Regions from separate parts of the Homo sapiens genome. Here all the other regions are linked to region 7. The links come from fine-mapping of genetic effects on gene expression. A gene starts in region 7. Each other region holds a variant in brackets. All regions are shown on one strand. Distances are from middle to middle.

The links. PIP is the estimated chance that this variant, and not a neighbour inherited with it, causes the effect.
Region 1: its variant is fine-mapped to the expression of TSNARE1 in whole blood (INTERVAL, PIP 0.98).
Region 2: its variant is fine-mapped to the expression of TSNARE1 in whole blood (INTERVAL, PIP above 0.99).
Region 3: its variant is fine-mapped to the expression of TSNARE1 in whole blood (TOPMed, PIP 0.93).
Region 4: its variant is fine-mapped to the expression of TSNARE1 in whole blood (TOPMed, PIP above 0.99).
Region 5: its variant is fine-mapped to the expression of TSNARE1 in whole blood (TOPMed, PIP above 0.99).
Region 6: its variant is fine-mapped to the expression of TSNARE1 in thyroid (GTEx, PIP 0.95). The same link has a PIP of 0.9 or more in whole blood.

What each region holds. Positions count from the first base shown.
Region 1 is chr8:142,424,757-142,428,819 of GRCh38, forward strand. No RefSeq gene overlaps it. Among named protein-coding and RNA genes, the nearest start is that of ADGRB1, 23 kb to the right of the region's middle. RefSeq lists an enhancer at 2,409-3,183. The variant A/G (reference allele first, on the strand shown) is at 1,657.
Region 2 is chr8:142,278,075-142,282,137 of GRCh38, forward strand. The region is part of intron 11 of TSNARE1 (t-SNARE domain containing 1); the gene reads right to left. Among named protein-coding and RNA genes, the nearest start is that of LINC00051, 82 kb to the left of the region's middle. The variant G/A (reference allele first, on the strand shown) is at 2,023.
Region 3 is chr8:142,303,980-142,308,042 of GRCh38, forward strand. All of the region lies in intron 9 of TSNARE1 (t-SNARE domain containing 1), which reads right to left. Among named protein-coding and RNA genes, the nearest start is that of TSNARE1, 97 kb to the right of the region's middle. RefSeq lists an enhancer at 473-562. The variant G/A (reference allele first, on the strand shown) is at 1,729.
Region 4 is chr8:142,271,998-142,276,060 of GRCh38, forward strand. TSNARE1 (t-SNARE domain containing 1) reads right to left here. Exons shown (of 14, transcript NM_145003.5): 12 at 2,784-2,866. Among named protein-coding and RNA genes, the nearest start is that of LINC00051, 76 kb to the left of the region's middle. The variant T/C (reference allele first, on the strand shown) is at 1,605.
Region 5 is chr8:142,354,845-142,358,907 of GRCh38, forward strand. The region is part of intron 1 of TSNARE1 (t-SNARE domain containing 1); the gene reads right to left. Among named protein-coding and RNA genes, the nearest start is that of TSNARE1, 46 kb to the right of the region's middle. RefSeq lists an enhancer at 434-1,201. The variant A/T (reference allele first, on the strand shown) is at 2,345.
Region 6 is chr8:142,312,748-142,316,810 of GRCh38, forward strand. TSNARE1 (t-SNARE domain containing 1) reads right to left here. Exons shown (of 14, transcript NM_145003.5): 8 at 2,256-2,345; 9 at 1,637-1,693. Among named protein-coding and RNA genes, the nearest start is that of TSNARE1, 88 kb to the right of the region's middle. The variant C/T (reference allele first, on the strand shown) is at 1,926.
Region 7 is chr8:142,401,583-142,405,645 of GRCh38, forward strand. It overlaps TSNARE1 (t-SNARE domain containing 1), which reads right to left and starts at 1,600. Exons shown (of 14, transcript NM_145003.5): 1 at 1,522-1,600. RefSeq lists silencers at 1,159-1,298, 1,439-2,008, 2,449-2,498 and an enhancer at 1,730-2,505.

The DNA.
Region 1 (4,063 bases), 23 kb after region 7:
CACAGCTCCCTCTGCATTTCTCCATCTCTGCGGCCACCCCCTGCCCTGGGTCCGAGGTTTGTCTCCCCCGACCAGACGGTGGGTTGACTGTGAGTAGGACAGTGTATGGGTCATCTCAGAGTCCACGGCCCCCAGGAGGCAGCCATGGGAAACGCTGACCACCAAGGGTGGGCCCTGTGCTGGGTGATCTGGCCTCTAATAGTCCAAACATTCCTAGGAGGTGGCATCTGTAGCATGAGCTGCCAGTGGCCCCTGGGGAATAGAATCCTGGGTCTTAAGCTGGGTGAGTAGTTGCCAGAATAAAGACTTCACTTCACAGCCTGACTAATTTCTGACCGATGGGATGCATAGGAAGTGATGTGTGCAACCTCCAGGAAGTACCCTTAAAGAGCAGTGTAGGCCGCTCTTCTCCTCTGCTCCTTCCTGATGGACAGAAGGTGAGTGTGACAGCTGGAGCTCCAGCAGTCACCTTGGACCATGAGGTATAAGACAGAGATGAGGAGGAACAGTGTGGGATGCAGTTGAGGGCCAGAGACGCTGACGTCATCCTGCTCCGTGGAGTGAGCCATCGTGAAGGCCAAGTCAACACGTCGGAAAGAAGCAAAGTATGGAGAGTCAGAGGAGCAGAGCTGCGGCCCCATCACGCTTCATCCAAAACCCGCAACAGCATCAGGTTTTCCATTTGCTTAGGCTAATCCACCATCCACCATCTGCTTGCATGTGGTTTCAGCCAGCTTGAGTTGGGTTTTCTGTTATGGGTTTTCTGTTACAGGCCACTGAAAACTTCCCAACACATACAGTGGGAGAGTCATGTGTTTCAGCTGGCCTGTGAGCCTGGGGAACCCAGGCAGACTTCCTAGAGGAGGAGCCCCACTGGGAGAAAGGAGGGAAGGGTGCTCCATACTGTGGGTGAGGGCATGGGGGACAGGTCCTCAGACCAGGAGGAGAGCTGGTACCCCCTGGACTGATAACCTGGCAGCCCCTGGGTCCCAACCCCAGGGCCCTTTGCCAGGCTCCATTTGGCCCAATTTAAAATTCTCAGGGAGCACCTCACACCTTCCCTGGAACTGTGGAAAGCATGGCATGGCCTCTCTGTACCCTTCAGATTTAGTTACCGCACCTCCCAGCTTTCCCAGGGCTGCCTTCCTCTGACCACATGCACACAGGATACACAAACATGTGCACTTGCATATACACATGGGCTCTGTGTGCACCTCTGTGTTTACATGCCGGTGCACATGCCTGCACCCCATGTGTGTATTCACATGCCCTGTACACCCATGTGTACACCATGTGCGTGTGGTGTACATGTGCACGTGCCCTTATGCTCATATCATGTCCACGCACACACACGTGTGCACTTGCATATGCATTCTGTATATACAAGTGGGTGCACACATGTACGCAGAGTGTCTGCATGTTGTATGCTCCTACACACACGAGGAGCATGCGCAAAGCTGCACGTGTACACTTGAACATGTGTGCACATGCATGTACCCACCCATGTATACACGTGGTGCACACATATACACATGAGGGTGTGCATACAGGCACACGCCAATATGCCCTACTCTCCATACAGATTTAGTGGAGGCAGAAGTGCAAGGGGCGTGGGGTGAGCCAGGGTCCAGCCAGACCTGAGGGAGACCAGCTGAC[A/G]CCACAAGAGAGGGCCATGCCCTCCTCGGCCATCCGTAGCAGAGCTTGCCAGGCCCCCGCCAGCCTTGGGTTTAGCTATGGCTGGGGGCAGAGGTCAGGAATCCAGCTCTGGGTCCCCCATGCCTCAGGCTGTGCAGGACTTGAACCAGTCCCCAGGCCAACCCAGCACCACACCCTTCCCCCTCTGCAGGATGGGCCTCCCCTTTTCACCCCTACCTGGATTCCCAACCAAAGACTAAAGACTTCAGTAGGCAGGGAGATTTGCACATCCTCAGGTGGTCAGGCTTCAGAGCTGGGGTTGGTGGGTAGGCGGGTAGAGGGGCTGGTGTGGCTGAAGCCCAGGGGAGTGCTGGGGAGGTGGTTGGCAAGCTCCAGATCTCTGCTCTGGGAGAGAGCAGGGGGCTCCTCCCTGGGGCCCAGCGGGACCTCAGTTTCACGGGAGTCTCAGAGAGCCAAGCCCCCTCCTCTCCCAGATTTCCTTTGTCCCACAATCCCAATGTCTGTGCCAACCAACCTGGTGCAGACCCTCGCTGCCGTTGGTGCTGGTGAGGTACCATGCTTGGGGGCACGTGGTGGCTGAAGGGAGGGAAGGTGTGGAATGTCTCAGATCAGCAAGTTCCAAGCACGGCTCACCGGCCTCCGCCCATGTGGCCTCCATTCCTCCAGGCCAGGGACAGGGATGGGGCAGGAGACAGCCTGTGTCTTTTATTCCTTTTATTTTTGGGAAAACAACCTTCTCCACCTCTTCAGGATTTGGGGAGCTGCTGTTCTTCACACCCTCTAAATCTGGGGCCAGCAAGTCACCAGCGACCTCTGGTACTACGGAGGTCAGCCCGGGGGGATGAGTTACAATGAGTTACACAAGCCCGTTCGTGACCCACATCGCCTGCCTGACACACTCCAGACACTGCAGGGAGTGCAGGCTGGGATGTGGCACTGGAGGGCGTGCACGTGGGCGTGTGCTGAGATTGCGTTCCTTACACACACAGAGTCTGTGTGTGTACGAGTACATCCTCATCATAGCCTTGGTGGCATGCCCTGGGCCCCCACAGATCCTGGCCAAGGATCTGGGCTCTGAGCTGTGGACCTACCCATGTTAGCGGCTGGATCCAACAGTGCCTTCTGCCCAGGCCCATGGCGAGCCTGGCCCTGTGGAGGGACGCCTCCTCCGTCATTACCTGCGTCGTCTGTCCTCTCTCAGCCACCTCCACCTGCGTCACTGCCAGCCTGCCTCAGCACGGAGCCTGCTTTCCCTCCCACCCCCAGGCCCTCGGTTCTTCCCACGTGGGATATTCTGGCTGTACGCGCGTGACCGTGACTGTGGGGACTGGCCCAGGGCTTGACTGTGGGGACTGGCCCAGGGCTTTTCAGGGTTGGAGCTGGGATTGGAGCCCGCCCTGCCTCGGGGAAGATCCTCGCTCCCTTTCTCCACGGCACCTCTGTGATTCTCGTCACCTGCCAACACCAGCACCAGGGCTGCCCCTCCTGACGGCCCCCTCGCCGTCTTTCTGGGCACACTCCATCGGCACAGCGTCTTCACTGTCCTCCTGACAAACCTCGTGCCACCCCCATCAGCTTCAGCACCACCTCCACAGCAGCCGTGGCCAGCACCGACGTCCTTTTCCGTCACCGTCAAGCCTCAAAACTGGGACCGTGGGTAATGGCGTCACCCCATCCGCCGTCTCTCTCTAGCTGCCAACGGCGCCTTCACCAGACACGCCCGGCACCACCTTCCAGGTCAGCAGTCCCAGCCCTGCGTATCGGAGGCCTGCTCTCCCACAGCGTCCACAGTCACTGGGCCAGGCTCGCACCTGTGAGGGGCCAGGACCCATACCGGAGCCCGGCGAGGCTCCCTCGGCCACCCTCTGGGTCCTCCTGTGCTCCTGGGGCACAGCCCATGTGGGCCCAGCCACCCAGGGCTGAGCGGGCTCTGCAGTCCCCAAGGCCGGGGCCCACTCCACTCCCCAGCGTTTCCCGTCTGCTAATTTCCTAAATGAACACTAATGCAAATGGCTCAGGCTGGCTGGGTTGGGTTTTTGTTGCCTGTTTATTTATTTTTTCCTCTTTGCTTCTAACTCCTTTTTCTACCCTCTAAATTGGTGCAGCGCGGGGAATTCACAATTCACCTCCTCACTCCCATTTCGGCACGCGCTCCTCTCTGCTTCCTTAATTATCTCATTTGTAATTCTTCATCTCCCCTCCCTTTCATCTCCTTCCAAACACCCCAACCAGTTAAAATAAATATATATTTTTAATGTTGAGGCGCCTAATTTAATCTGGCAGGCAGTGTTCTGCAGTCACCGGCAGGCATCTCAGGCTGAGTCACGTCGTGGGCCACAAGGCTTCCCAGCCCCCCGCCCGTCCTGCCAGTGGGCTGTGTGGGGAGATGGCTGGGGGCAGTGTGCCC
Region 2 (4,063 bases), 120 kb before region 7:
CAGATCCTCCTCCAGCCCCACCCCATCAGGAGGCCCACTGACCAGGCCCATCCCCCAAGCCCCACCACAAGGCCTAGTGCCCAGGCCCATCGCCCAAGGCCCACAGCCCAGGCCCCTTGTCCAAGCCCAGCCACAGGGTTGGCTGGGTCTACATGCGTCTCCCAACCAGTCCGGCCCACTCTGCCCATGGGTCCCAGCCTCATGCACCGCTGTGAGCAGGAGCAGCTGAGGATGCCCCAGCGCTCCAAGTTCTGCCATGGCTGCCACTGGGGGCGTTTGAGGCCAGCCCCTGCCTGTCCTGTGAGGCTGGGTCCTTCTGTCCACTCTGTGGCCCTCAAGGAGCTGGTCCTGCTTCCGGGGCTTCGTTCCCAAAGTCCTTCCAGCAGCTCCCAGGAAGGGGAGGGTCCAGCGGGGCTCTGCTTCGAAGGGTGTGCCACCATATGCGGAGGACGGCGAAGGAGCTCCTGGCACGGTGTCTTGAGGAGGAGAGGAGGTGCGGTGGGAGGAGGCACGGAGGCGGCAGGAGGAAGCACGGAGCCAGCATCACCCTCAGAGCCAGCGTCACCCTTGGAGCCAGTGGCAGCTGCGGGCTGCAGACGAGGCCTGACCAGACAGAAACGCCTGGCTTCCGGTGGTCCCTGGAGTGGGCCCGTGGGCTCGGAAGGGGGCACAGCGTGCCTGACAGGCTGAGAGTCACCGGACAGCACCACGTGTGGGGCTTCCAAGTGGGCCCAGAGGGAGGGGCCTGCAGAAGGAGGGGGAGGCCACTGCAGGCCAGAGTGAGGCACAGCGTGGGGCGGGGAAGAGTCAAGCTGGGGCCCAGGCTCCTCCCTGGCTCTGCCCAAACTCCTCAACGTGACCAATGAATGGACAGGTCACCTGCTGCTCCCTGGGAGCTATGTCAAGGGCCAGCTGGCTGGAGGTGCATATGGGCTGAGGCTCCTCCCACCTGCTGGCTGGCCTTGCCTTCTCATGGTAGCTGTACGCTGGGGCTCTGGGGCTGGGGGAGAGCGGAGGGAAGCCCTCCTTCTTCCCAGACACCCCTGTCTTCAGACCCTGGGGCCAGCTGGGCCCTGCTGCCCTGCATGGGAAAGTAGGGACTTCTCCCTGCTGGGACCCACTGGTTTGGAAGACCTGGCTGCCTAAGGACAGCCGTGCTCACCGCTGGACTGCATCTGGAAGGGGAGGGCTGCCCGTGGAGAGGAAGGCCAGGCCGGGACCCGGGGCCAAACAGGCCTCCGGCCACACGACACCAGGCGGGAACGGCAGAGGCCAAGATGGGGGCCTTGGAGGGCACCAGGGCACCCTGGGCTGCACCCGCTGCTGCTGCACGTCGGGGAGCTCAGGCCTTGTCTCTGCCCCTCACCAGGCACTGGTCCCAGAGGCCACCTTGTGACCGCCTCCCCACGGTAGCGCTCACCTCTCTACAGTGACTAGGACCCAGCATCCCATCTGGACACCCGGTGGGCACGGCTTGAGGTGGCGTATATGGTCGAGCCCCTTGATGGCACAATGCTTGGCAATGCAGGGAGGACCCTGAGCTGGAACCGCAGCCCTTCCACTACCGAGACAGGCAGAACCCTCCCTGGCCCCGACCCTTGGTTTCCCCACCTAAAAGAAGAGATGGGCCAGGAGGGTGGCGGGCCATCTCCATGGGCCTCTGGGTCTCCCTCGGAGGGTCTCCCTCTTGGGAGCTGGTGCAGAAGGCTCAAGCCCACTCGCCGGCCCTGCTTGCCCCAGGGCAGTGTGGTCCGGGGGGGCGGGCTGTGGGGAAGGCCCACTTACTTGGCAGGGGCTCCGTGGTCTGGCCCTCGCCTTGGGGACCGTGGGCAGAAAAGGTCTCTGCCACCATGCGCTCCACAGGTGTGAGGAGGAGGCCGGGGGCGGGGCCGCCCTCCGCCAGCTTCTTGCGCACAGCACCTCGCAGGTCCCGCCACTTGTGCTTGAGGTCCCCCAGGTCGCGGCGGCAGTAGCCCAGCGCGTTCACTGCCTGCAGGATGCGGCTCCACACGCGGTGCTTTC[G/A]GGCAGGTGTGCCCCGCAGCGCCCCGAACAGCAGCGGGTAGTGGCGCCGCACCCTCTGCACCAGCACCTCCGTCTCCTGGGGGCTGAAGTTGGGCTTGCGTGTCTTGGTGCGGGAGTGGGGGCCCGGCCGCAGGGGTGTGGAGCCCGGCCCGGCACCCAGCAGCAGGGCTGCCGCGGCCGGCTCGGGGCTGCAGCTCTGCTGGCAGATGGCTTTGCTGCTGCTGGACCCTGGAAAGGCACCAGAGGCTGAGCAGGGGGCAGAGACCCTGGGGAGAGCAGCCAGGTTCGGGGTCACAGGTCATCACAGGCCCTGCATCTGTGCACAGCGGCCAGGCCTCGCATCGGCACCCAGCATAGGCAGCCTACATCCACTATACAGGGGCCCTTCTGTCTCAGCTACTCTCTGGGCCTCCCGCCTGTCCACCCGGCAGGTGCCCTCTGCCCTCCCCGGAGCCCTGACCACGTGTGGTGGGTCAGCCCTGGTTTGTCCCCCTCCCCACGACTGCTCCCTTCCCTGAACTGCTGGCATGAGTGCCCCTCGTGATCAGTCCTTCACTGGGACTGATCAATCTGTCACTGGGACTGGGTGGGCACCTGAAGTGGACAAAGCGCTCCACAGACTCAGCACATCCCAGCCCGCGACAGGTGGCCAGGGGCAGAAATGGCTACAGCCACCTCTGGAAGCTGACAGTGGGGAGAAGGGGGGAGGACAGAGCGATAGGAGGGGTCCTGGGGAGAGGAGGTGGTAAGGGAGTGATGGGGCAGCCCAGCAGGCCCTGTATGGGGCCACAGAGCAGCTGGAGGGGGCCACAGAGCAGCTTGAAGCCCAGGCTCCGAGGGGATTGAGGGGCCGGCCTGGCCCAGCCCCGCCCCAGGGAGCAGCAGGGTGCTTGAGCCGCAGTCACTCTTCTCCTGGGGACACAGCACAGTACCCGGGAAGAGGACGCCAGCTGCCTGAGGGTCTCCGGACACACTGCCAGTTGTCAGAGCAGGAGGGACCAGGAGGCTGTTCTCGGCACAGGCCCCAAGGTGAGGCCACAGCTCAGTCAGGGCATGGAGGGAGAATGAGTGGGTGGGGTGGAGCCTGAGAGTGCTGGTGGGCAGCTGAGCGCTTTAACCAAAGGCCCGTGGGCACCAGGGGCAGCCTGGCTCTTCCTCAACTGAGGAAAAGAGACACCCAGCCAGAGCCAGGAGCCTCTGCCCCACTGGCCTGGGAGCCAGGGCTCCTGGCAGCAGCAGGTATAGACAGGGCGGGATGAATGGGTCAGAGCCCTCCAGTGGGAGCGGGAAAGACACCAAAACACAGCAGGGATGGGGTCCCTGTGGGAGGGGGGCAAGGTCAGCATCCCCTCAAAAGCCCCCTGCAAACCTGGAGCCCCACCATGGTTGGGGGCCGCACAGGCAGGCCAGGGCTGCTGTGTGACTACAGTGGGAAGAGGACATGAGAGACTCTGGCTCTCCACAAGCAGAGGAGGCCACAGCGCATGGAGTCAGAACTGGACACAGTCACCCCAGGGTTAGGGTCAGGGTTAAGGGGACCCAGAGCTTTTAGACCTCATGGTGAGGACCTCTCTAGGGAAGCCAAGGGCAACCCCATAGAGGAAGGGCTGTGGCCCAGGGTGGGTGAGCAACCAAGGCGGGTGGGGGCGCTGGGGAGTCGGTGGGCCTGGGCGGGGTCACTGGGCACTGTGACCTCTGTCCCATCTGGGAAGGCCCCTCCCTTGCCCCAGGTGAGGTTTCCTGAACGGAGCCTCCAGCCTCCCTGGCTCCAAGCTCAGCCCCTTCATCCTGACCTCTCGCCTGTCAGGTCCTTGATGGGTGGCCTCCAGCAGCAAAAGGGTAGGGCTTCTCCTGGGGACTCAGAGGCAAGGGACAAGACTGTGGGCCTCCCACTTCCTGCCCCCACATACAGCCTGGCGCTAAGGTAGGACCTGACTCTAGGCACCCGGGCACCCCTGCTGCTTCACTTCCTTTTCCAGAGGAACGCAGAGCTGAGGGCCCACGGTGCTGGCTGGGAGGTGCCCTGGCTTGCGGTGCAGCC
Region 3 (4,063 bases), 98 kb before region 7:
CTTGCCCAGGTCCTGCAGGTGGGATGGTGAGGCTGCCCTAGCCAGGTTCTCCTTCCCAAGCCAGCTTCTTCCTACACACCACCCTGACACGGGTAGAAGCTAGCAGAAGCCTTTAAATAAATAAATATGTGGATAGATGAATATAAAATAAAAGATCTAAAAAATCTGTTGACAAGCGCAACTCGTCCAAGGTGGTAATTATCACCTCCCCTTCCTGGAGTGGGCGGGAGGAAGTGAGCAGTGCCTGGCGGTGGGAGCCCAGGGAGGCGCTGGCCTCGCGCCAAGCCCAGCAACCCCAACGCCTCCTTCCTACGGCTCCAGCCCCTAGGCTTCCGGGGCTCTTGCAGAAAGAGCCTGGGCTCAGGTTCCGGCCCAGCAGTGGTGCCGGCTGTGAGGCCCCAGGCATGCCACGCCCTTCTCTGGGCCTCACTGTCCTCATCTGTAGAATGGGAGCAGCGGCACTCACAGCCCCGTGGTCTATGCCCCTCAAGCTCCACCCACACGGTCTGACCCCTCATGTCTGCAGAGCACAGCAGCTGTGCACCTCACTCCACCAGGAACCCGAGCACGAGGCTCTCCTAAGGTGTGAGGGCTCAGGAACACTGCCCTTCACTTCCTGTGTGGGCCTGGGGAGGGTCCTCAGCTTCCCTGAGCCTCCAGCTTTCACTTCCAGGGGATGGAGCTGACCTCAGCACGTCCTAGTGTCGCCTGGAGAGCTCGAGCTGAGGCATGCAAGGCTGCAGCATACAGCAGAGATGCCATGAGATGCCACCTTCCGGACTCAGGTGGGAAACCAGGTTGAGCTGTGCTTTTCCCAACGCTGTGAGCTACGGGGTAGAGACGTTCCTCCCAGGGGGGACATGGCCATACACGCCCCTGGAGAGCGGCATGACGGTTGAGCACAGCCTCCTCCTGCCAGCGGTGACAGGCCCTACAACAGCCCCACTGACTGGGGTCCCGTGGCCTGGGTAAAGTCAAAGCCCCCAGGTAAACATAACAAACTTTTGAGGTAAGAGGTCCCCGGGGCAGCCCGGCTGGTGTGCCCGAGGACGGAGATGTAGGAGCCTGCCCTCGGCCCTGACAGCAAACAGCCACAGGCGAGGGGGCTGGAGGAAATGTGCTCCCTCCCACGATGAAATCCTCCAGGGCAGCTAATGCGGGCGAGTGAGATGGCCAGGTGGAGAAGGCACCACAGGACGTTCTGTGCGATGTTCCCTGGACTTGGGGGTTTCAGTGACAGCTCCCCAGGAGCTGTGGGCAGAGGGTGCCAGGCACCCATGGAGACCTGCCTCGGATCTGTGCCTTGGGATTGATGCCACCTCCTGCATGTGGAGAAGGGGAAGCTCAGGAGGATAGGGGAGGGCGCAGGGGTGGGAGGGGGGTGCAAACGGGGTTCCGTGTGGACGCCCAGGAAAGCGGCCAGGCTGGGGTGCGGGCTGTGTGGACACCCAGGAAGGCAGTCACACTGGGATGCGAGCCGTGTGGACACCCAGGAAGGCGGCAGGGCTGGGGTGCGGGCCAGAGGAGACCCCGCAGGTGCTCGGTCTCCCTCACCTCCACAGCGGGAGGATCGGGGGCCTGGTGCCGCTCTCCCCAGCAGTGCAGGACAAAAGCCAGGGGAGGAAGAGATGGCTTAGACGCCCGGGTCCCTCCGCGGCCTCCTCCTGAAAGGCTCACAAAGCGCTCCTTTATTCTCCCCACAAAGGCCCAATTTGGGTCTTGAGCTCC[G/A]AGGCTGGGATTAGGGATTTGCTGGCAAGGTGCTGGGGCAAGCGCAGAGGGGACGGCCCTGTGATAGTTTTCCAGCTCAAGAGGCAGACAGACAAAGGCGGCTTTCTCCTCCCCACAGGGCTCAGGGCCTGGGTCCCTGTTCCGACACGTAGGGAAGAGACATGCTCTAACGTGAGTGCTGGAGACAGGGCACACACGGTTTCCCGTGGGAAGAGACTCCGCTCTGCCAGGCATTCAGAAAGCAGGGACCCGAGGCCGGCGCTCAGGGCTCTCCAAGGCTCTGGGAAGGAGACCACTTTCTCATGCACTCCGACCCGAGGGAGGGCAGGGGCCAGGGCAAGAGGCGCTCACACAGGGAGTGGTGGTGTCTTTTCAGGAGCCCCAGATAGCTCACTGTTTCCTCCAAGCAGCAACAGACTCTATTTATTCACTGGTGGAGTCTCTGGAGGCAAAGCCCAGAACATCAGGACGGACACGGCTGTGGCAATGCTTCCCCCAGCCCCACGTTAAATCAAAGGGAAATGGACCCAGAGACAAGGGGCGACCTCCAGCCCTGTGCCTCAAACATGGAGGCGTGTCTAGGCAATTTCCAGCCAGCCCGTGAGAGTGAAGCAGGTCTTCACTTCTGCAGCCCGGCTGGGGACACACGAAGTCCTGGTGGAAATGTAGGCTGAGGTGGCCAGTGACGGCAGAGACAGAGCATGACCTGCCACTGGGGCCATTGCCCTGATGCTGCCCCAGGGACTGGGATGCTGCTCACTGGCTGAGCCCAAGCTGGGTCTGAGACTGACCCTCGACCCAGCTGAAAACTACGGACCACAGCCAGGATCGCCAACTCCACACAGGCTGAGCTGCTCACCCCACACCCAGGGGAGACAGGCAAGAGACGGGGAAGGCAGCAAGTGCCCCTCGCACCTGCCAGGGCTGCCCGGCCTGTGAGTAGCAGCCCCCCAGTCCCCCCACATCAGCCTAGCATCAACTTGGCAACAGTCCTTTTGTTGAACAGGGTTGCATATCATCTCATCATTTATAGTTTGCAAATTCCTAGAAATAATCTAACCTTCCATGATTTCTCAGAAGCACTACTGGCCACTCCCCACCTTTTTAAAAGAAAATTCTACCGAAAGGCAATACATCTGTGTTTCAATGCCAGGTGCAAAGGATATAGCTCTATGACTGCTCACAAAGGAAACACATCCCAGCCAAGACACAGGACACTGGTCAGGACCCCCGGGGCCTCCCTCCAGCACCTGTCATCCCAGGCCCCCAACAGAGGAGAACCCAGTTCCAACTTCTAACACTGTCCACCAGTGGGGCCTGGTTCTGAATACTACAGAAATGGAATCCCACAGTCTATCCCCTTGGGTCTCAGGCTTCTTGGACTCAGCGTTATGTCCGAGGCATCACTGGTGGGGCCACTGATCATACAGTAGCCACAGCTCACTCTTTTGGCTGCTGTAGAGTCCCCAGTGGCATGAATTCAGCTTGGACTCAGCGTTATGTCCGAGACATCACCAGTGGGCGTGGTGGCCACAGCTCACTCTTTTGGCTGCTGTGGAGTCCCCCGTGGCATGAATTCAGCAGGTGCTGCTTTTCTGTGCTGGTCAGACTGGGCGGTGTTCCAGGTTGTGTCACTGCGTGGGGGCTGCTATGAGCATTCTCCCATGTGACTTCTGTCAACACACAGTTGTCCTGTCTCCACGGGGGAGTGGCCGAGGACTTCCACAGATACCAGAATCTGTGGGTGCGCAAGTCCCTGATATAAAATGACTTGGTATTTTCATACAACCTACGCACATCCTCCCATATATTTAAATCACCTCTAGGTTGCCTATAATATTTAATATGATGTAAATGCTATGTAGTAAATAGCATAGTTGTTCTGCCGTATTGTTTTGGAAATGATGACAAGAAAAGAAGAGGCTGTCCATGTTCAGAACAGCTGCCATCTTTTAAAAATATTTTCAGTCTGAGTGGTGGAATCCATGGATGTGAAACTCATGGATACGAAGGGCCAACTGAATATGCATGTCTGTTGGGCAGAACTGCAAGATCCTAGGTCAGAAAATGCTGAACTTGATATTCTCGAACAGTGTTCCAAAGTGGTGATGCAAAGGCACACCCCACCAGTAAAGGCATGAGAGTGCAACCGCCTGCACGCAGCCCACGCCCGGCTTTTGCAGAGGTTTTCACTCATGTTTGCTCTAGTTATTTGTGTGGGTGTGGTGTGTGGTGATTTACCATCATGGGTTTCTTTGCCATTTTTCTGATAACTCGTGTTGCCAAGTACACAATCACAGGCTTATGAGCCAACCGGAATCCTCTTCTGTGAGGT
Region 4 (4,063 bases), 130 kb before region 7:
ATCCGCTCGTCCGCCTGCCCTCTGGTCTACCCGCCATCCTGCTACCCAAGTGTCTATTCCTCCACATAGACACGCCCACCACATCCACTCATCTGTCCACCTGTCTGTTCATCACTGTCCAGCCAACCCCTTCCAACCTCCTCTTCCTTCTATTCATCCATCCATCCGTCTACTCACCCATTTATCCATGCTGTCTGTCCATCCACCCAGCCACTCACCCATCTACTCCTTCCTCCTTCCATCTACCCATCCACCTGCCCGTCTACACCTTCCTCCTTCCACCTAGCCACCCGCCCATCTACACCTTCCTCCATCTACCCATCCACCCGCCCGTCTACACCTTCCTCTTTCCATCCACCCACCCGTCTACACCTTCCTCCTTCCATCCATCCACCCGCCCATCTACACCTTCCTCCTTCCATCCACCTATCCACCCGCCTGTCTACACCTTCCTCCTTCCATCCACCCATCCAACTGCCCGTCTACACCTTCCTTCTTCCATCCATCCACCACCCGTCTACAGCTTCCTCCTTCCATCTACCCACCTGTCTACACCTTCCTTCCATCCACCCACCCGTCTACACCTTCCTCCTTCCATCCACCCACCCATCTACACCTTCCTCCTTCCATCCATCCACCCGCCCATCTAGAGGCCCCTCGCAAGCGGGAGCAGGACATTCTATGCAGAGGCGACTTCACAGAGGCCTCATCCCTCCTGACACACCGTGGGGAGGGCCCCTTGCAGGTAGGAGCAGGACATTCTACGCAGAGGCGACTTCACAGACACCTGGTCCCTCCTGACACACCGTGGGGAGGGCCCCTCGCAGGCGGGAACAGGACATTCTATGCAGAGGCAACTTCACAGATGCCTCAACCCTCCTGACACCGTGGGGAAGGCCCCTCGCAGGCAGGTGGGAGCAGGACATTCTATGCAGAGGCAACTTCACAGATGCCTCATCCCTCCCTGATACTCCCTGGTGGACCCCCTCGGGAACAGGAGTGGGACAGTCTATGCAGAGGTGACTTCACGGCCGCCTCCTGGGCCTGAGCCTTGCCCACCTCCTCTGCAGTGTGTCGGGGGGGCGGTGCCTGCTCTGCCAGGACTGAGCCCACAGGCTCACTGGGAATGCGGCACGGCGTCCATGGCACAGGTGGCTGGCCCAGTTGCCACTGCCCTCCTTTCCTCCTCCTCCTTCACCTCCTCCTCTTCCTCACTGTCCCATCGTCCTCCTGCCGTCCCAGGCATCAGCGCTGCTTCTGACCAGGTGATCCCAGGGTGCTCAGGAGGGGTCATCTTGCTGGCTGGCTTTCCTCTTGAAACAAGGCCTTCTGCGTGGTGTGGCCCTGAGTTTCCAGCGAGTCCACCTTGCCCGTCACCAGGCGTCACCTTCTGCCCATCACCTTCTGCCTCCTGGAGGCCCCTGGGCCTAGCTGCCCTCAGCGACTAGAGGTGCTGGGCCAAGGGCTGAGGCCAAACAGCCCAGAGCTGGCGCCAGGAGACCCAGCCCCAGCCTTGCCTCTGACCTCATCCTGCAGGTGACCTTGGCACAGCCTCTCCCAGGTCTTGTCTCCCGGCCTGGCGTTCACCAGCTGTCAACAGGGAC[T/C]GACCCTTGGTGACCTGAACCTTCTGAGTCTCATGGCCCCCGACAGAAATGGGGAGGCCCAAACTGGGATCAGCCTCCCCGTTACCACACACTCCCACAGTGGGGGTGCCCGGGCTGGGTCCCACTGGGGAAGCTCAAGGCAGCCCTGGCCTTTCCCTCATTCTCCACCCAGTCAGGCCCCTGCGTGGTTCCAGCTGCGGCCCCCTTTTCCTCTTGCACCCCTGAGGCAACTGAGGACCCTCTGCGGGCACAGCTGTGATATCCCAGCGTCCTGGGGATGTGGCTCCTCTCTCGTCACACCTGCCTGTGATGTCCTGGGCTCGTCTGGCTGCTCCTGGACCCTGGCCTCACACCCACTGCACCATCTCGTCTGCCAATACTGCCCCTGCTCCGCCCTCAAGAGTGTGTGCTCTCCTGGCCCCAGCTGGCCCAGGGGCTTCTTCTGCGCTCCCACCGTGGCCCATGCCACCCTCACCTTGCTGGACTTAATGTCCAGCCTGCCTGGCCCCTGGGACTCCTTGAGGAACAGGCTCTGGTCATCTCTGCCCGTCAGGGCCAGTGGGGAGCACCAGGCCACAATGGGGACAGAGCCAGTGAGGGGAAGACAGCGGCTGGGCCTCCATCTCAGCTGGGCCACAGTCTCCAGCCAGCCTGACCTGTCAGGTCTTCTTGTGGTGACCACAAGTCAGCAACAAGGCCCAGTGAGTGGCTAGTCCTCAAGGTAGCTCCAAGTCCCACTTCAAGAAAATAAAGGCCTGAGCTTTCTTGTTCCCTCTGAGCCACTGACCTGCCCCAACCACAAAGTCCCCTCTGCAGTTCCCCGCCCCAGTATGGACACTGAGCTGCATGTCAGCATCTGGCACAGGAGGTGGAGCGGGAAGGCCCCAAGGGCCCTCCCCTCGGCTGCACCCCGGATCCATGGGAGAGGGCGGCGTGGTGCATACAAGAGAGGAGACGGTGCCGACCGCTGTGGGCACCACGCAGACCACTGCTGCCGCAACCCCGCCACTCCCAGAGCCCTAGGGCACGGGCAGCAGACTGGTTCAGAGGAGGCCTGTGGGCATGCCCCTCCCAGGCACAGGGCAGGGCCTGGGCCCCTCCAGACAGACGGAGGGAGGGTTGGAGGATAGGGGACGGAGGCCGGGCCGGCCGGGCACTGTGGCCCTCACACGGACTTACTTGGTGCCGGCTGGCTCCAGCCAGGAGCTGGCGGGCTGCCTCCGCATGCGAGGACGCAGCCTCAAGGCTGGCTTCAATACTATCTGCAAATCAAGACAACAGAAGGCAATTACAGATGGAGGCCCAGCCGCCCCCGCCCTGAGGACACCCCCCAAAGGCAAGCCCAGGGAGCCTGAGCCCAGGGCCTGCAGAGGAGCAGAGGCTGCAGGGATGGGCGCTGGGCTGCCAGACGTGCCGAGGGCTCCGCGTGGTGTGGGCAGTGGGCAGCAATGACATTAGAACGGAGGCCTGGAGGTGGCCCAGGGAAGGGGACTCCTCAGTGCCCACACCAGGTGGGGCAGGAAGAGTCCACTCAGGAAAGGGTGGGAGTGGCAGGCGGAGGTGAGGGCTGGGGTCAAGTCCTGCTCTGTCATGACCTTGCCTGGGCCAGCCCCTCCACTCTGTGGCCACGGCCCCCTCTGAAGGGGCAAAGCCCCTGCCTTAACGTCTGTGGAGTTGCGACGCGGCTGATGGAGACCGGGTCTGCAAGCACAGGGCTCTGGTTTGCCACACGCACTGGCCCTCGACTCAAGCACAGGGAGCTGATCAGAAAGTTGTGCTGCCGTGCGGGGATCACGGGAGATGGTACCTGGGAAAAGCCGGGCTCGGTGGCTGCAGCAGTGCCACCCAGGGAAGCCACATCAGCAGGGCCCACGGGAGACACCAGACCAGGGCCGGGGCAGCCCCAGGGATCCGGAAGATTCCATGCTCAGCATTGTCTTCCACCCAAAGGAAGGACACATGCCACCTGGGCACCAGGAGCGCAGGCACAGCCGGGGTCCTCAACAGAGCCACATGCAAACACGAGCAAACACGAGCACGGGCAAGCCTTCTTCCCGGAGGGAGGTTCCTTGCAAGGCCTGCCTCCAATCAGGCAACTGGAGAAGAGCTTGGGAGGCAGGAGTATCTAAACAAACTGTGCACCTGCAGTGCCTACCAGGGCACAGACCTGAGCTGACTTGAGCCTCAGGGGTCTTAAGGCCTGGGATAGAGAGGCCATTACAACCACAGGGACTGCTGCCAGGCACAGCCTGGCACGACTGGCTCTGAGGGAGGAGGGTCCTCAGAAAGACAAGGCCACTCCCCACCGTCCCAGCAAGGACTCCCTACTCTCATCAGGGAACTGTGGCCCCATCTCTGCAAGCCCCCTGGGCAGGAGGTGGAACCCATGAGCCCTGCCTTCAGAAGCCCCCACCCAGGCCTCACAGGGATCCTTGAACCCTTGGTCACCAGCTCCACCC
Region 5 (4,063 bases), 47 kb before region 7:
GGCCCCTCCCCAGCCCCAAGACCCTGGCTCCATTGTACCCATTCCCTAGGCTACTCCAGGCTTCTCACCAGCCCCCAAACAGCAACCCCCCCACAGAGCCCCTTCAAGGTGGCCTCTTGGTCCACTGGTCCCTGCAGGAACACAGAAACACAGCCTGAGGAAGGTGTGCCCCCTCCCCTCCCAAGAGGGACCCCCAGCAAGGTGAGCCCTCTGGCCGGCTCTTAAAGACCAACCCCCACCGCCAGCCTCCCAGGTGGCTTCTGGGAGCGCTGGGCCCCCGCCATGCAGGCAGGGCAGCATCCACTGCATGTGAGTCAGGCCCAGGCCGGGCTGAGAACCCGGCACCCATGCAGCCTGCCGGCATCTCTAGCTCCATCGTCTTGAGCCGCACTCCACGGTAGTGGGGCTGGGTCAGGCCCGGGGTTGGCTCTGCCCTGGCTGAATGAAACCTGTGCAGCTGGCAAGAGCCATGGGGCCTCTCTGGGCCTCAGTTTCCTCATCTGTGAAGTAAGGGGAAGAAGAGGACCTGCGTCTTAGGGCTGTTGTGAGATGCAATCAGACACACATTATGGTTGGCAAACAGTAAGCACTCAACACATAACTCATGGGAGTGGCGCCACCCTTGGGGCACCGGCCGTCCCTGGAATGGGGAGCTGGGCATCCCGCCCAAACCTCTCCTCCCGTGGGCTGCAGCTCCAGGGACTCAGAGCAAATGACCAGAGGATAACGGGAGCTCTCCTGCCCAGACACTGCCAGAGCGTCCTCCCTGTGTGCAGGGGTCCCTGTGCGGGCAGCTTCTGACTGGCCTACACCCTAATGCTATCACTACGGAACCTGCTGGCCAGGCCACACCTTAAGTTCTAAACACCTCAGGGCAAGGGCTCCACCCGCCCACACAAACACCTGAAGTGCGAAGGCAGGTTTCAGAGCAAAGTGAGCCTCACGCCAGCTGAGTACAGACCCAAGTCCCTAGGGCCGGGGAAGGCGGTGTGACCCCACGTTCCCTCTGAGCAAGACACCCGCCTGTGCCATCCAGCCCTGCCCAGAGCAGGGCAGCACCAGGACACCATCGACCCAGTGGGCCCCACTGCCCTGCTCAGAACAATCGGGACCCAAACAGCTCTGGTTGCTGCGGATCGCACCTACTAACATCCACTGCATTAGAAACTCAAACGGAGGCTTCTGAAATAGTAGTAACTCATTTTAAATAACAAAGCTCTTACTGTGAACACAGATAACATCTTTATTAAAAACCACTGCATTTTCCAAAACAAAACCCCTCAGAGACAGCGGTGCCGTCCTACAGTCGTGGCACCCTCCGGGCAGGCCCAGCAGGACAGCTGGACTCACACCTGCTGCTGGCGCAGGCCTTGTTCTGCCCAGGGCGCACGAAAACACCCGGCCCCACGCAGAGAGGCAGCAGGGAGAGTGGTCCTCAGCCCCTCTCTCCACAGGTCTCAGGCCTCGCATCCCAGGTACCTGCCCAGTCGCCATGGCCTCCCTCCCCTCTCTGCACGCTGCCTGGAATGGGGAGGTGGGCAGGAAGTTAGGTCTCAGTAGGAGGCAGGAGATGTCTGCTGCCCCAGGGGAGAGTGGGCTCTGAGAGCGGGTGGGATTCCAGGAGCCCCGAGTGAGAGGCAGGTCTCAACGCAGCGAGCAGAGAGCTCTGCACATGTGCCGGGGCCTCATCGGGAAAAGCTCAGATGTGGAAGACAGCCCAAGACACATGGGGGAAACACAGCGTGGAGGAAACAGACACTATCCAGAGAGAAAACTTTAACACGTAACAGCATAGCAGCTAGCACTTCCTTAACACTTGGCGCGTGACGACAATCACAGAGGCGCTTTACTACACGCGCAGATTCATCCTCACAACCCTCTAAGCTGGGGCCACAAGCATCTTTACCTTGCAGCTGAGGAAACTGAGGCATGGAGAGGTGAGGTAACTTGCCCAAGGTCCCCCAGCTGCTAAGTGGTGGAGAAGGTTTCAGGCTCGGGCAGTCTGGTTCCAACACCTGAGTTCTCTGTACTGCCCTCAAAGGAACGAGCTCAGATAACAAAGGCTGTGTTAACAGCCCCAGGACAGGAAGGGGGGACGCCAAGAAAGGGACTTTCAGAGAACACAGAGGAGCACCGAGAAGCCAACATTGGGAGCAGCAGCAAAGAGCTCCAGAGAAGGGGCAGGCAGAGCGGGGGCCTCCAGAAACCAGAGCACGAAGACACCGCAGAGTCAGAGGAAACCACCAGCCCTGCACAGGCACTTCTCCATCCGAGGAAGGAGAGTTCCAGAAAGAAGGACAGGAGGGCCAGGGGAAGAGAATCGTCAGGAACAGCATTCACACTG[A/T]TCCCAGCCAGAGCTCACTCGAGCTGGTTAGGGGCCCCTCACGCCCCGTGAGACCTCAAGAGCACAAGCCGTCTTGGGTGAGGGCTGCTGCACAGGCTTTCAGAGAACTCGGGGAGGGGCACTCAAACCCCAGGTGGGGAGGGTCCAGCAGTCCCAAGGAAGCGGCTCAAGGGGGCTCTGAGCACAGGGCACTACTTGCCATCACCTCAAATGATGGTGGGGCGCTGGTGGGGCCAGCCAGGCCTGACACAAGACTTGTGTTTGGGGAGCTCCCTCTACTTCAGGATTGGGAGCAAGCTGCTGGGGGCACGTGAGGGGCTGGCAGGGCAGTGAGCAGGTGGCGGCAGGAACCAGGGCCCGGGAGGGAGGAGGGTGGAGCTAGGGATTGGCACGGAACCCAGGGAGAGTCAAGGACAAGTCCTAAGTTCTGGCCCAGAAGGCACACGGACAGTGCTTTGACTTCCTCGTGCCAGAAAGTGAGGGGAGCCGTGTGCAGGGATGAGCCCAGAGGGGCTGGCACAGGCAGGCAGATACCCAAAGCCCTGGAGGTGGGGCTACATGCAGAACGCGAGTCCACTGTGTAGGGACAGTTGTTAAGGAAGAGAACTCCCAGGGAGAGAAGCCACCACGGAGAGAGGAGAGGGCCCCACAGACAACACAGGAGATGGGGACGAGTCAGGGGGATGTTAACCAGAGGCCACGAAAGCCACGGCGGAGGCTCCATGAGAGGAGGGGGCGGCCAGCGGCCATCACTGCAAAGGGCGGCGGGGTCTGCTGGGTTTCAGGACAAGGGGAGCAGCCAGCGGCCATCACTGCAAAGGGCGGCGGGGTCTGCTGGGTTTCAGGACAAGGGGAGCAGCCAGCGGCCATCACTGCAAAGGGCGGCGGGGTCTGCTGGGTTTCAGGACAAGGGGAACAGCCAGCGGCCATCACTGCAAAGGGCGGCAGGGTCTGCTGGGTTTCAGGACAAGGGGAACAGCCAGCGGCCATCACTGCAAAGGGCGGCGGGGTCTGCTGGGTTTCAGGACAAGGGGAGCAGCCAGCGGCCATCACTGCAAAGGGCGGCGGGGTCTGCTGGGTTTCAGGACAAGGGGAGCAGCCAGCGGCCATCACTGCAAAGGGCGGCAGGGTCTGCTAGGTTTCAGGACAAGGAGGAGCACAGGAAGCTTGAGGAGGGCTCATGAGAGGTAGGAACGCTCATGGGAGGAGGGAAGGGATTCAAGTCTGAAAGAGCTGAGCTGAATCAGAGCTGGGGCCCCTGGGGGGACTGGAAGGCTGCCCAACTCCCCTCTGCTCCGGCCAGGCACATGGAGGGGAGTGAAGATTTGTGAGCTGCTCCACCGCCACCAAAGAGACCACCTGACCAAACTCACAATTTCATTTCGCTGCATATGGAAACATGAAACACCTCTGTGTTTGCTCAGCCAGCTCAGGGACAAAGGCTAACCCACGGTCAGGGCCACCGAGTCACCGCAGGCAGAGGAGGCCAGTCTGGAAACACGAAATGGCAGCACATGTCTTCTGCCTATTCACGGCCCCGCCCAGCAAGCCACTCTGGGCCCCTGGGGACACCTGGAATCCAGTGGGTGCAACCCCCCCATCGCTGGGAGACCACAAGGGGCCATGGGGTACTGAGCTGTACCAACCCAAACCCCCCAGGTGCCCCACGCTTCCACTTCCCTCCAGTGTCCGACTCAACCCCCATCCTGCGCTGGCCCA
Region 6 (4,063 bases), 89 kb before region 7:
GCTCTAGGGTTTTATTCCTAAGGGTCCTGAACTCTAATTTTTGCCTCTCCAGCCCAGTAAGACCACTAAAGCTATAAGCCACCACTGCTGTTCAGTCTCAATAAGCTGAGACACAAGCTGGCAAATGTCCTGGGGGTGAGAAGGCAGTGATGATGAGCCTGAGTGATCTGGGAATGCGTGCCTCTCTAGGCTTGGCTCCCAGCTGCTCCGATGTTTCCCCCATGTTGGATCCATGTGTGTCTGCATGTCTGCATCTATCTGTGTGTCTCTGGGTGTCTATCTGCATGTGTCTACATGTCTGTGTTTATCTGCATGTGTCTGTGTGTCTGTGTTTATCTGCATCTCTTCATGTCTGCGTGACTGTTTATCCGTGTGTCTGCATTTATCTGCATGTGTGTCTGCATGTCTATCTGTGTCTCTGTGTGTTTATCTGCATGTCTACATGTCTGTGTTTATCTGCACGTGTCTGCGTGTCTGTGTTTATCTGCATGTGTCTAGATGTCTGTGTTTATCTGCATTGGTCTGCATGTCTGTTTATCTGCATGTGTCTGTGTTTATCTGTGTCTGCATGTCTGTGTCTCTGTGTGTTTATCTGTGTGTCTCTACATGTCTCTTTATCTGTATGTGTCTGCATGTCTATGTGTCTGCGTGTCTGTGTTTATGTGTCTGTGTGTTTATCTGCATGTTGTCTACATGTCTGTTTATCTGCATGTGTCTGCATGTCTGTGTTTATCTGTGTCTCTGTGTGTTTATCTGCATGTGTCTACATGTCTGTGTTTATCTGCATGGGTCTGCATGTCTGTTTACCTGCATGTGTCTGCGCATCTGTGTTTATCTGCATGTGTCTCTATGTGTGTTTATCTGTATGTCTCTGTGTATCTGTGTGTCTCTAGCTCTGTCTCTGCAAGTCTCTGTGTGTCTGTGTCTCTGTGTGTTTATCTCTGTGCATCTGTGTTTATCTGTGTGTCTGCATGTCTGTGTGCATCTATGTGTGCATTTTTCTGTATGCATGTGCCTGTGTTTTTTGTTTTTGTTTTTGTTTTTGAGACAGAATCTCACTCTGTCGCCCAGGCTGGAATGCAGTGGCGTGATCTCGGCTCACTGGAACCTCGGCCCTGCCTCCTGGATTCAAGCAATTCTCCTGCCTCAGCCTCCCATGTAGCTGGGATGACAGGTGCTCGCCACCACGCCTAGCTAATTTTTGTATTTTTAGTAGAGATGGGTTGTCTCCATGTTGGCCAGGCTGATCTTGAACCCCTGACCTCAGGTGATCCGCCCACCTCGGCCTCCCACAGTGCTGGGACTCCAGGCGTGAGCCACCGCGCCCGGCCACGTGTGTGTGTGTGTTTTCACCCAGGTTTCACAGTGGCTCTCAGCAGGAGAGCTGGTCTGACCTGTGAGTCCTGCCCAGCACATGGCACCGTCCGCAGTCATTCTTTGGGAGCTGAGCCCTTGTCAGGCACTGTGCCAGGGCCCAAAGGTCAAAATGCCCACGTTTTCAAGGCTGTGCCTCAGGGCGCCCCTCAGATGACACCCCTGCCCTTGGCCCTCCCCGCCCTTCCATGGAGCACAGATGGCAGCGGATTCTGGGCTGTCCCCTAACAGCCACTGACCATGGTCAGTACTCGGCACCCACCTGTTTACTGCCCCTCTGCGCCATGGGAAGCAGCGCTCTGGACTTTTCTGCAATTTTCTGTTGAAAAAAGGACAAGAGAAGAAAGACAGGAAGAGCAAAAAGGGTGGGGAAGGGAGAAGAAATGGTCAGCTGAGTGCAGGGCTCTGGACGACGGTGCAGCAAAACACGCCTGCCACTCCCAGAAGAGGCTGCCGGGGCCGGGGCTGAGCTCTGCCAGCGACTCGCTGGATGGCCTCTGTCCATGCCACTCCCAGAAGAGGCTGCCAGGGCCGGGGCTGAGCTCTGCCAG[C/T]GAGTCGCTGGATGGCCTCTGTCCACGCGTGGGAGCTCTCTGGGCCCCAGTTTCCTCACCTGTCAGAGCAGGGTGAGACTTGTTCTTCCTGCTTCCCCAGAGCTACTGTGGGTCAGCTCTTGAAGGTAAATGTCCTCTAGGACACATGCCCTGAGGCACAGTCTGGATCCTGGCTGCCTAGAGACTGTCTGCAAGAACAACCCTCTTCTCTGCCTTTGGGGATGGGGCTGCACCAGGCCCACAGGGACAAGACAGCCATGACAGTGCTCCGGGAACCGAGGCCGACCCCACCTGGCCTGCAGACCCCCACTGCCCCCACCAGCACCTCACCTTCTGCACCACTCCATAGCACTGAATGGCATCTGAGAGCTGGGTTTTCAGCCGGTCCAGCTGAGGACGCTCCTGCTGCAGACGCTCCTGCTGCAGAGAAGGTACAGCTGGCACGGCATGGGAGGCTTGGCCCTGCCCCAGCAGCCCCCACCACCCACACCTCCTCCCGTACCGATGTCCCACCTTCCCACACTCAGAATGGGGCTCGCCATCAACTACTTCCCCTCCGTGTCACCGTCGTCTCCACAGGCACACCCAGGGTCCCCAGGGACACCATCACCACAAAATCCGGTGCAGGGGTCAACACCACCTGCCGGAGCCAGGAGCTACCCAAGGCACATAAACCCGGCCCCACACCACCTCCGCGAGCAGCACTGTGACTCCTCTTCCACAGCGCAGGACGTCGTGGCCCTGAGTCCCGAGTGACTTGTCTGTGGTCACATAGGTGGTGGGGCCACTGCCAGAACCATCCCCCTCCCCAGCATCTCGCCTGTATCTGGGCTCCCCGTGGCCTCCAGGGTCCACCAACCCCAGTTCCTTCCTGCTGGGATGTTCGCCACCACACCTCAGTGCCCACCAGGCACCTGCTTCAGAGCTGGAGCTGGAGAAGCACGGAGCCGGGGTGGGGCTGGACACGCACGGAGCCGGGGTGGGGCTGGACACGCAGCCCTGGGGCCCGCCTCATTGCTCTGGCTCACCGTGGACACCACCCACCAGCAGCAGCACCAAGGAGCCCACAGCTTCCTCCCAGCACCCACCCCATGGCTATCGGAGGATTGGAGAGAGCCAAGGCTAAGGCGGGCTGGTCTGGGGTAAACCTCTGACAGCCGAGGGGCACTGGGAGCAGCCTACCACAGCCTTGACCTCTTCCCACAATCGAAGGCACTACATCTCATCAAAGCGTCCACGGCCCACAGAGTCAAAGACGTGGTAGGCACTGACCGTGCACCCACCAAGCCGCGTGAAGGAGCCATTCGCTTCACGAGGAAACTGCCTGCACGGACCACCCAACTCTGCTCTCACCCCACAGAAACGCCTCTCAGAATCGCAACCCTCCACCATGTGGGGCCTTGCTCAGCACCTCACGTAAGCGCAGCGCCTCCCGTAAGAGGGACCCAGCGTGTATTCTTGGATGAAGGAGTAAATGAATAAGTGACTCAGGCACACCTGAGTCAGAGAATGGAGAACAAAGCTACAGAGGAAGAGGTCAGACACAGGCGTCGATGCTGGTCATGACGCTGCTGACATCACTGCCCGAGGGCACAGGCCAGGGCAGCACCTGGTCCCCACAGAGTGGTCCCCGCAGGGCAGCCATGGCTATGAGGAGTGACCCATGCATGGAAAGGCTCCAGGCCGCTCAGCACAAAGCTCCCAGTGTTCCTGTCATCTGCCTTTAGGGAGACTCTGGCCACCCCATCACTGGACAGGGGACTGCTGCCTCTGTTACAGTTTTTTAGTGTAACTAACTTTTGAACTGACTCTACTTTTTTAAGTACAAGTTTTATTACTGTCTAATTTAGATCTGATAAAATCTACCCGCTTTAAGTGTAGAGTTCAGTAACTCTTAGTTGTACAGCCATCCCCACAACCCAGTTTTAGAACATGCCCATCACCCCAGAAAGGGCCCTGCGCCTTGCCTGCAGGCACCCCAAAACCAAGCCCTGCTCCCAACCCTGACAACTGCTCATCGACTTCTGGTCTCCACAGATTGCATTTTCTGGATGTTTCACACAAACAGAACCATACACTGTGCGTTTTCTTGCGTGGGGGCATGCAGTCTTCCAGCCTCACCACATTGTGGCCTGCCT
Region 7 (4,063 bases):
CTCTTGACCCAGCATCTACAGAAGGCCAGACTCAGGGGAAGTGTCCAGGGAAGGTTCCTGGATAGAGTCAGAGCAGCCAGAGGCTGCCAGATGTTCATGGGGCCAGGCCAGCAGAGGAGGAGAGAAACAGAGGTGACCCAGCCAAAACTCAACCTCCTCCAGGAAGTCGTCTTGGATTTGCCAGCCTCCCACAGCCACCTGCATTCACGGCCTGTGCTGCTGTGTCCAAACATTTGTTCTACCAGATTTCTGCTGCGGTCCTGTGATGTATGGGGTCGAACGGTATGAAAGCAGCGGTTCAGTCGGGGGAAGCACTCCAGTACTAACAAACTTCAGCTTTCTTTCAACTCAATACTGTGTCCACACTGGGAGTATCCTAAGCAACAATCCCCACCCCTGTCTCACAGGCACTAAAGATAAAACAGAAAACAAGCAGATGAGTGACAATGACAAACAAGAAATACTGTAGGGAGAGCGGTCAGAAAGGTGAGCTCAGACATACCGGAAGCGGAGCTGCCCCCAAGCCAGGAGCGAGCCAGGAACTAAAAGAAGAGGCAAGTGTGCAGCAGAGGAAAGAAAGGGCGCCAGGTGTGGCTGGAAAGGCACCTGGCAGGATGAGGGGCGGAGAAGCACCGGCGGAGCAGCACGCGCGAGGCCCATTTTGAGCCGCACCACACCGCTCACAGAACTTCCTGTGATAAGCAGTGTTCCCTACCCGCGCTGCCCCACACAGCCGCCACCAGACACGTGTGGCTACTGAGTGTCGGACATGTGACCACTGGCACGGAGGACCTGAATCCTTCACGTTAAGGACAATGTAAACAGCCACACATGCCTAGGGGCTACCACACTGGACATGGCAGAGCTTCCAGAGCAGGAGGAGTGCGCCATGAGGCAACAAACACGAGGTCCCTGGAGAGTTTCTGCGGGGGCAGCACAGATCAACATCACCTGAAAGTCCCTGGTGGGGATGTCGCAGGCCCCAGTACCCAGGAAGCACCTTCTTACAACTTGGAGAAGGGACAGAAAGGCATGGAGAGGCAAGCACACAGGAACGGGGTCCCCAGCTCAGGCTCGAAGGCGGGCTCCGCTCGTTGAGCTGCAGGGCACCAACCCTTGCACCCAGCAAGTAGGCGCTGGGGCGCTCCCCGGGACGGCACTGACCTCCAGGCGCAGGCACCGGCTGCCCGGCCCAGAGCCCACCGACCTGGGGTCTGAACAGCGCGCGAGGACCCGCCGAGGGGCTCATGTGCCCGCGGGCCGGTCCCCGAAATGCGGCGCTCTCGCGGGGCTGCGGCTCAGGGTCCCTGGCGCCCCTGGGGTCCACCCCCGGCACGGTCCCGCCCCCTCCCCTCCCCACCGGCGCGGCCCCGCCCCCCGCCCGGCCTCCCGCAAGCCCCATACCACGCCACGCCGCGGCCCCCGCCGGGCTCCGGGCCCCGCGCTGGTCCCCGGCCGCCTCGCCCTCGCCGCCCCACGCCCGGCCCCGGCCAGGCCCCAGCCCCACCGCCGCCGCCTCACCTGGGCCTCGGTGGCTCGCGGACCGCTCCGGGCGCTCACGGCGGGCGAGGCGGGCGGGGCGGGCACCCAAACATCACGTGACGGCCCCTCCCGCCGCCGGCGTGCGCGCCCCCTCCCGCACCAGCCAATGGCCGCCGGTCCCGGACGCGCGCGGGGACTACCCGCCCCAGAGGCCCCGGCGCGGAGCCGGAAGCGGCGCGGACGGCGGTCGGCTGGGCCAAGAGGCCTCTGCGGGTGCGCGCGCGAGTCGGCTGTCCTCACTTGCCTGGTGGTGGGCCTCCGTTTCCCCGTTTCCCCGTTTTGCATATGGGGATGACGGCGAAGGTGGAGGTCACGTGGAGGGCGGCGGCCCGGCGCTGAGGCGCTTCGGGAGCGGGCTCCGCCCAGCCCAGGCCGAGCCCGGACCTCACACGGGCCAAAGCTGGAGCTTCTGCGGGGCTGCGCAGGCGGCGGGTCTCGGCCAGGGCAGGGCCGGGCACCTGCGCGTCTCGCGCTGCGGGGACGGGCGTTGGGCCCCAAGTCAGGCTGCACGGGCTCCGCGTGGGGCCGTGCTCGGCCGGGGGCTGGCAGGCCCCGCGGGGACTCCGGACTCCCAGTGTCACCAACGAGGAAACTGAGTCTCAAGACATCTGAGGGACCTTTGCCCGAGGTCGCAGCCCCTCCCTGGAGGAGCTGAAGTGCAGAGTAGGGAGCCCCTTGCGGAGACCCTCCTGGGACCTCCTTCCGCAGGGGCCTGGGGCGCCTCCCTTTCCCTGCTCTGCCTGCGGGCACTGAGCTCCCGAAAGACTCCAGCCCCTCGCTCTCCCGGTGACCTGCTGGAGAAGACACCTGGGAGGAACCTGCGGACAATGGGTGTGTGTCCTTGGGCCGCCAGGGTCACCTTTCAGCCTGTTTCCCCAGAGGTGAACCAAGAGTCACACCCAAGGCAGGAGAGCAAGAGTGATGAGTCCGCTGCACCTTCTCCGGCAAGCGGAGGTTCTCCCGCCGCCCTCACTCTGTGATGCTTGCTGTGCTTGCGAGGCCTACGCCAAAGCCCTGCGGGCAGCCCTGGGCTCCCGCGGACAGCCTTGCTGAGCTCCTGGGAAGGAGGCGTGCCCTCCCCTTCCCCCACCGCCCCGCTGGCTGGGGTTCTCTGCAGCCCAGGACTGTGCATGTGTGCGCACACGGGTTCTGTGAACACGAACACAAAAGTGTGCTCGTGGACACTGCGTGGTACTGTGTGCACACAGCGCACGTCTGTGAGCTGAGGGAGTGTTCCTGGACACCAGGTGCAAGTGCACAAGTGTGTGTATGCTGGCACAAGTGTGTGCCCAGGCGCAAACATGGGAACGGTAGTATATGGCACAAATGTGTGCACACATGGGTGGGAGGGAAGAGGGGCACATGCCCACCAGCATTCCTGGGCTGGTGCTCAGGCCGGCCTGTCCTGGGCCCACCCACGCTCCTTGCCTTGGTGTATTTCAGTCTCCCCTGGGCTCCCAGGAGGCAGTAGTGTGTGCCTGTCTTGCAGCCTCGCCATGATTTGGACAGGGCTTCACTCTTCGGCTAGGACAGCTAGAGTGCAGGGAAGCCGGCTCCTAACCAGGGAGGATGCCCATGACTGCTGACCCCCCAGCTTCCACTTGAAGGGGAAGGTTCGCCAGGACCAATGCCTGTCTGAGAGCTGTCAGTCTGGACTGAGGATGCCGGGTGCCTGGCACGGTGCCCACCTCCCCTTCCGTGGCTGGCGCTGTCTGTCTGGCCGCCACCTCACTCAGCCTCCTCTGACAGCTCCGTGTTCAGGTGTGCAAAGGAGGGGAAAGTGAAGCCCTTTCCTCCCAGGGCAGACCACCTCCAGGAGCCGCTTTCTTGACCATACAAGGCGTATATGGGGCTGTTTCTGTGCCTGGACACTGCAGGGGGAATGGTCTAGCGTGGGTAGGAACCACCAGAGGAGGGGCTCCGTACCTGTTGGCTCCTCCGAAATCTGGGATGAGCCCGCCTGAGTGCCCCACAGCAAGTCAGGGAAGGTAAACCTCTCCGTGGAAGAGCCAGGAGCCCACTCCCTCAGGCTGAGCCGATGGGGAGGGGGAGGAGGATGCTAAGGGGTCCTCAGGAAGGGATGAGGGAAATAGCCAATAGCTGCCTGGGCCTAGGGCCGGGGCTCCCCTCCCTTCCCTCATCTCTGCCCCTCCCTGGAAGAGGTCATCACATGACCTCGGGCAGCTCTGGGCTCCCTCCTTCCTCCAGAGAAGCAGGACTCCCTGGGAAGAACTCTGGTCCCACCCCTTGGCCAACCAGTGAGACCAACAGGGTGAATAAGTGGGATTGGCCCCAGGACGCTGAGTTCTGTTACCTAAGGGGGTGGGGGTTGCCTGGTCCTCAGCTGGCACCCCCCAAATTGGATCTACCATTCCAGGTCCCAGAGGGAATGTGGGCAACAAGGTTAGGGGGTGGTTCCAAGGCCTTCGGAAGGAACGTTGAGGCAGCACCCACTAAAGCCAACCTCAGAAATGCTCCCTCTCTGAATAGTAGCATGGACTTCTCAGGGTTTAAGCTGAAT